Homo sapiens: one gene and its partner. The protein of the gene in region 1 purifies or fractionates together with the protein of each later gene. This does not show direct contact. Each region holds a gene or a part of one and is shown on either strand. Other genes may lie near its edges.

Region 1 (4,118 bases):
TCTCTACAGAAAAATTTAAAAATTAGCTGGGCATGGTGACGTATACTTGTAGTCCCAGCTACTTGAGAGGATGAGGCAAGAGAATTGCTTGAGCCCAGGAGTTCGAGGCTGCAATGAGCTGTAATTGCACCACTGCACTCCAGCCTGGGTGATAGAGCAAGACTCCGTCTCTAAAATCATAAAAATTAGGCCGGGCGCGGTGGCTCACGCCTGTAATGCCAGCACTTTGGGAGGCCGAGGCGGGCGGATCACCTGAGGTCAGGAGTTCAAGCCCAGCCAGGTCAACAAGGTGAAACCCTGTCTCTACTAAAAATACCAAAAAAATTAGCTGGGTGTAGTGGCGGGCACCTGTAACCCCAGCTGCTCAGGAGGCTGAGACAGGAGAATCACTTGAATCCAGGAGGCAGAGGTTGCAGTGAGCCAAGATCACGCCATTGCTCTCTAGCCTGGGCAACAAGAACGAAACTCCATCTCAAAACAAACAAACAAAAACATAAAAATTACAAATAATTAATTAAATGTTTGAACCCAGGTATTTGCATTAATGTTCTTCGTTGTCTTTTTCATCTCTATTTCTCTTCCAGTTTAAGAAAACCCCTCCTAAGATCCCTTATAAGGCCATCGCACTTGCCACTGTGCTGTTTTTGATTGGCGCCTTTCTCATTATTATAGGCTCCCTCCTGCTGTCAGGCTACATCAGCAAAGGGGTAAGCTGACGGGCATGTGGGAATAAGTTGTGAGATTTTTAAAATGTTAGCCAAGGCTCTAGTGTGCGTGTGTGTGTGTGTGTGTGTGTGTGTGTGTGTGTGTGTGTGTTTGTCCGTCCCAGTGGTCTGTTTTTTTTGAGACAGGGTCTTGCTCTGTCATCCAAGCTAGAGTGCAGTGGCACAACCTTTACCTCCCTGGGCTCAAGCGATCCTCTCACCTCAGCCTCCCGAGTAGCTGGGACTACACGTGTGTGCCACCACACCCAGCTAATTTTATTTTTTATTTACTTATTTTTGTTTGTTTTATTTTGTGTAGAGACAGGGTTTCACTATGTTGCCCAGGCTGATCTCTAACTCCTGAGGTCAAGCAGTCTGCCTGCCTCAGCCTTCCAAAGTGCTGGGATTGCAGGTGTGAACCATTGCCCCTGGCCAATTTTTTTTCCAATTTTTATGGGTACATAGTAGGTGTATATACTTAGGGGATACATGAGGTATTTTGATACAGCCATGCATTCATAATAATCACATCAGGCTAAATGGGGTATCCATCCCCTCAAGCATTCATCATTTGTATTACATTCCAATTATACTTTTATTTATTTATTTATTTTGAGACAGAGTCAGGCTGGAGTGCAGTGGCATAATATCGGCTAACTGCAACCTCCGCCTCCCAGGTTCATGCTATTCTTGTGCCTCAGCCTCCCGAGTAGCTGGAATTACAGACGTGCGCCACCGCACCCGGCTAATGTTGGTATTTTTAGTAGAGATGGGGTTTCGCCATGTTGCCCAGGCTGGCCTCCCAAAGTGTTGGGATTACAGGCATGAACCACTGTGCCTGGCCTATTTTTAGTTATATATATACATATACACATACATACATACATACATATATATATATTTTGGAGACAGAGTCTTGTTCTGTCACCCAGGCTGGAGTGCAGTGGCAGGATCTCAGCTCACTGCAAACTCCGGCTCGTGGGTTCAAGTGATTCTCCTGCCTCAGCCTCCTGAGTTAGCTGGGACTATGGTGGCAAGCCAGCACACTTGGCTTATTTTTGTATTTTTAGTAGAGATGGGTTTTTGCCATGTTGGCCAGGCTGGTCATGAACTCCTGACCTCAAGCGGCCTGCCCGCGTGGGCCTCCTAAAGTGCTGGGATTACAGGCGTGAGCTACCACGTCCAGCCTTAGTTATTATATTTTTAAATGTACAATAAATTATTCTCTAGTCACTTTGTGCTATCAAATACTAGAGCTTATTCATTCTATGTAACTATATTTTGTACCCGTTAACCTTCCCCATTCCCCCCTACCTTTCCCAGCCTTTGGTAACCATCATTCTACAATATCCATGAGTTCAATTGTTTTAATTTTTAGTTCCCGCAAATGAGTGAGAACATGGAAAGTGTGTCTTTCTGTGCCTGGCTTAATTTCACTTAACATAACGTTCTCCAGTTTCATCCATGTTGTTGCAAGTGACAGGATCTCATTCTTTTTAGTGGCTGAATAGTACTCCATTGCATATATGTACCATATTTTCTTTATTCACTTGTCTGTTGAAGAACACTTTGGTTGCTTCCAGATCTTGGCTGTTGTGAATAGTGCTGTCATAAATATGGAAGTGCAGATACCTCTTTGATAAACTGATTTCCTTTCTTTTGGGTATATACCTAGCTGTGATTGCTGGATCATATGGTAGTTCTATTTCATACTGTTCTCCATAGTGGCTATACTAATTTACATTCCCATCAACATTGTACGAGGGTTCCCTTTTCTCCACGTCCTCGCTAGCATTCGTTATTGCCGTTTTTTTTGGATAAAAGCCATTTTGGCTGGGTGCAGTGGCTCACGCCTGTAGTCCCAGCACTTTTGGAGGCCGAGGCAGGAGGATCACTTGAGCCCAGGAGTTCGAGACCAGCCTGCGCAACATAGCGAGACCTTGTGTCTATATTTTTTAAAAAGCCATTTTAACTAGGATGAGATGATATCTCATTGTAGTCTTGATTTGCATTTCTTTGATCAATGATGTTAAGCACCTTTTCATATACCTATTTGCCATTTGTATGTCTTCTTTTGAGAAATGCCCATTTTTGATTGGATTATTAGATTTTTTTTCCTACAGAGTTTGAGCTCCTTATATATTCTGGTTATTAATTCCTTGTCAGATGGATACTTTGCATATATTTTTTCCCATTCTGTGGGTTGTCTCTTCCTTTGCTGTACAGAAGCTTTTTAACCGGATGTGATCTCATTTATCTGTTTTTGTTTTGGTTGCTTGTGCTTTTGGGGGCATTACTCAAGAAATCTTTGCCCAGTCCAGCATCCTGGAGAGTTTCCCCCATGTTTTCTTATAGTAGTTTCATAGTTTTAGGTCTTACATTTAAGTGTTTAATCCATTCTCATTTGATTTTTGTATATGTCAAGAGATTTGAGGGGTCTAGTTTCATTCTTCAGCATATGGATATCCAGTTTTCCTAATACCATTTATTGAAAAGACTGGTTCTTTCCCCAGTGTATGTTTTTTTGTTTTTTGGTTTTTTTGTTTGTTTTTTTTTTTTTGAGACAGAATCTCACTGTGTCATCCAGGCTGGAGTGCAGTGGCACCATCTCGGCTCACTGCAACCTCAGCCTCCCAAATAACTGGGACCACAGGCATGTGCCACCACACTTGGTTAATTTTTTTTTCATTTTTTGTATAGATGAGGTTTTGCCGTGTTGCCCAGGCTGATCTCGAACTCCTAGACTCAAGCAGTCCAGGAGTACAGTGGTGTGATCACAGCTCTCTGCAACCTCAATCTTCAGGGCTCAGTCGATCCTCCCACCTCAGCTTCCCAAGTAGCTGGAGTTACAGGTGTGAGTCACCATACCTAGCTAATTTTTTTGTTTGTTTGGTAGAGATGAGATCTCATTATGTTGCCCAGGCTGGTCTTAAACTCCTAGGCTCAAGCAATCCTCCTGCCTCAGCCTCCCAAAGTGCTGGAATTACAGGCTTTAGCCACTGCACCCCTCTGACTATGTTTCCCGTTGTGTGTTAATTATGGTCAGTGTGAGGCCCACCCTAGCCTCCCAAAGTACTGGGATTACAGGCGTGAGCCACCACACCCGGTGGATGTAGAATTTTATCAAATGCTTTTCTAGCATCGATTGAAATAATCATATGGTTTTTGTCCTTCATTCTGCTGATACGATTTTATCACATTGATTGGTTTGTATAAGTTGAACCATCCTTGCCTCTCTGGGATAAATCCCACTTGGTCCTGATGAATGATCTTTTTAATGTATTGTTGAATTCAGTTTGCTAGTATTATCCTCCTTATTGAGGATTTTTGCATCAATGTTCATCAGGGATATTGGCCTATTTTTGTTTTTTCGATGTGTCTTTGCCTAGTTTTGGTATCAGGGTAAAACTGGCC
Region 2 (3,500 bases), on another chromosome or scaffold:
TTATGCCATTTTGATTGGTTTGTTTCAGGTTGCCTGAATTTTTAATACCCCTTTCTTGTCACAGAGAAGAGAACTTTGTTATTTTTGGCTTTCACTGGAGTTCTCACTTCAGAGTTGGTTAGTATGAGTTTCTGCTTTCCAAGCTGACATGTTTTTTTCTTTTTAGCATCTGTTCCATATACAGGGTGAATAGCTACAGGGTTCCAAAACTGCGAGTGAAGCACCTCCTCCACATATTCCTCACTAGCCTGCATAACTGACAGCACTTGGCTGTCTCCGGCCCTGCTGTCCTAGCTACTCTGCAGCTCTGCCCACCTGATACTGCGCCACTGATGGCAGGCAGTGCTGTTGGGAAGAGAGCAAAGGAAGTGAGTCTGGTGCTGTGAGAACAAAGATAATAAAGGTAATTACTAATATGCCTTTAGTGTTTTTCGCATATTTTTCTTACGGATCCTCACACCATCCCTCTGAGAAATATATTATTATTGCCTCCCATTTAAAAATTCTATATGCATATTTGTATACTTTTCTTTTTAAATAAAGGCAGGAGAGAAGAAATACTCCAGATAGGAGAAATATTCTTTTCTTTTCTCCTCTTTTGCAGAGAATGTTAAGGCAGGCTCCTTAATTTTGATTCAGAGGTTTTGCATTCAGAAGTAAGTGTTCCTGTCTTGTGTAATCTTTTGCCAAATCATCAGCAATGTACATTTCACACATTGCAGGGAAGCATTTGGGTGCTCCTCCTCCCTTTTCTATCTCTAGAGATACTGTGTAAGCCAAATGCAGCACCGAGGATCCCAGGATTACTGTAAATATTTTAAGCACATTATGGAGACTGATTATATAGGAAACTGGGGTAAGCAAACTACTCCATGGAGTGAGTGAGTACTTCTCTATACTGACATTTGGAATCTCATTCCAGATATTTAGTTCAAAGACAGTTGCTTTTTTCACGGTCATGATATGTTAATATCGGGGAGCAGTTCATTCATATTCAAAGGAGAGAACAGTGGCCTGGCTGATAATATATTTGGTTACTGCACCATGGGATCAGGCCTCTTATCAGCTATTTTTAGTCACATAATGATTATCCTTGTTTAAGTCTCTTCCATTTTCTTTTTGTTGTCTTTATTCTAATGCATTGAGGAAACATAACATTGGTTTTAAAACTGCAGAATTTTTGTTTTTAACCCTCAGTAGTTACTGTATATGTAGCAAACTAAGTGGTCTTCTGGGACTCGGCGGAGCGGGCCCTGCTAAGCGTGTAAGATAGTGTGCCGTTTCTGCTACGTCCCCTGCCCCAGCGTGCCGTGTCCCCAGGTTACTCTGCTGTCCATTTGTGCTGGAGAGAATAATAGAAATAAACAGTCTTTCTGGGTCCACTCTAAGTTCATTTTCCTGTTGCCCCTTCCTGAAGCTTGGAAATACATTTATTCAACTCGATTGAACTCTTCTACTGTCTGATTTTCTGGTGTTAGAGTTTGGGCAAATTTTCTGGAAGGGAAGACACCAGCGTGGGCAGGCAACTGAGAAGGGTTCTCGGGTAAGAATAAACTGGGCTGGATGCAAACACAGCGATGAGTGAAGATTGTAAATGAAATGCACAGTTAGGGGCTGTTGTAATACTCCAGGTGTAAAATAATGAGGCCTGAACCCATGCAGCATCAGAGAGACGTGCAAGTCATGATGGAAAACAGCTGGGTTGCAATCAAGCCATACAAATGGAAACCAGGGAGATGAGAGATGAGGGAGGAGCTCTCCCTGGTCTTGGGCAAGTAGAATTGTTGAGCTTGTAGCTTGCTTGTCTAATATTTGTCCTTTAGAGAGCCCAAGATACTTTGTACAGAGTAGGCAATACTTTGTAGAGTCAGATTATTGAAGTTGAAGGTGACTTTACAGATCTTTGCCGCGCAGTAGAGTGGCCACTAGCTGCATGTGGCTGAAGAAATGGTGAGTCATGGTTGAGCTGGGCTGTAACGGCAAAATGTGCACTGGATTTCTGAGACTTAGTATGAAAAAGGAAAATAAAACAGTTCATTCATAATGTTTTCTGTTTATTATATATCGAAATAATATTTTGGATATGTGAGATTAAATAAAATATATTATTAAAATTATTTTATGTATCTCTTTGTACTTTTTTAGTGCAGCTGCTAGAAAGTTTAAAATTGTATATGTGGTCTGCATTATATTTCTATTGGTGAACAAATTATAGATCATCTAGTCCAAATATTTTAATTGATTATTTATGGAATTGCAGACTTGCAGAAATAAAATTATCTGACGGTCAACACCCCCATTGCTACACAGGGAAACCAAGGTCATGAAAGGTGAAGTTCCAGGGACTTGTCTGGTCTTCCAAGGGTAGTACCAGTGTGAAAGAACTAAAGCCACGTCTTTGGATTCCCCAAGTATTAAAAAAAATTTGTTTTTCTTCCCTGCCCCCTCCCTCCAGCATTTTTTTCAGGGTTATTTATCTTCCTCTTGAGTCAGTATCTCCCTCGGGCACACTCTAAGATATCCACCTTCAGTTAATTTTGAAAATGAACTGGGTCATGGCACTAGGAAATACCATTATATTTCTTTGAACCTAATCTCTAATAGAATCTGGTTGCTTGCGTCTTTTAGTATGGTCTGATATTATCAGTCAGTATTTATGGAGAGGATCTTCAACACACTCACGATTTATGATTAATCTCACTTTTGACTGCATGATAAATCTTAGTGTCCTACACAACAACCTTCTTGAAGACCAGTGGGCGTCTCAGCAGCAATGTTTTTCTTCTCAGAGACCGGTCATTGATGGGAGTTGAGCACCTTTTAAAGCAATACATTTAAAAATGTGTTCCTGCTACTGCACATTTTCTCCATAACATATTACTTTCTCAAATAAGCATGTTGGAAAAATGGAGGAAGTAAATACAAAAGAGAAGAAGTCTGAATAGATAATGTTCAAATACCATTAGGTTGTGAGTGGCTCTGAGTCCTGCTAGGAAGACAAAGGTAGGTTTTATTACCAGGGGATGCTGCTGGACTTTTAAAATTGTTCAAGACTTTGAGTTTTTAGGCATTTCTTTTAAACTACATTGATGAAATTATGGACTGTGATAATAAACACAGTGATGGCAACCAAGATGATACTATGTGATGATTAGTTGTCTGATAACTTGTATCAGTGTGTGGTTACTTTGATTTCACTCATAATTTGTGAGTCCATATGATGAGAGCTGTGTTGTCTGCAGTCTGTGATATTTTTCAGTGGAGATCTTGGCCTTCTACGCGTGGGTATAGAGTGTGGCTGAAGAGCCCCAGGGTAGGAGAGCTAGTCCAGAGTTCTGAGACCACCCGCCAGGCTCTTCTACGCAGGATGATATGTTGACAAGATATTACAGGGCAATGTCGGCAGTGTTGTGCAGAGGAAGTGGGGATGCCGTCTGTGTAAACATTGTGATGATGTCTGTGTTAACACTATGAATTCAGCACCATAGCGTCACACCATG

Evidence for each region.
Region 2: the proteins of TMEM230 (region 1) and ATP8A2 purify together in Homo sapiens (affinity purification with western blotting, with the first as the bait; one study listed by BioGRID). This does not show direct contact.

What each region holds. Positions count from the first base shown.
Region 1 is NC_000020.11:5,102,777-5,106,894, reverse strand, and holds part of TMEM230 (transmembrane protein 230), read left to right. Parts: intron 1-584; coding exon 585-707; intron 708-4,118.
Region 2 is NC_000013.11:25,378,474-25,381,973, forward strand, and holds part of ATP8A2 (phospholipid-transporting ATPase IB), read left to right. Parts: intron 1-3,500. UniProt on the Homo sapiens protein: Catalytic component of a P4-ATPase flippase complex which catalyzes the hydrolysis of ATP coupled to the transport of aminophospholipids from the outer to the inner leaflet of various membranes and ensures the maintenance of asymmetric distribution of phospholipids.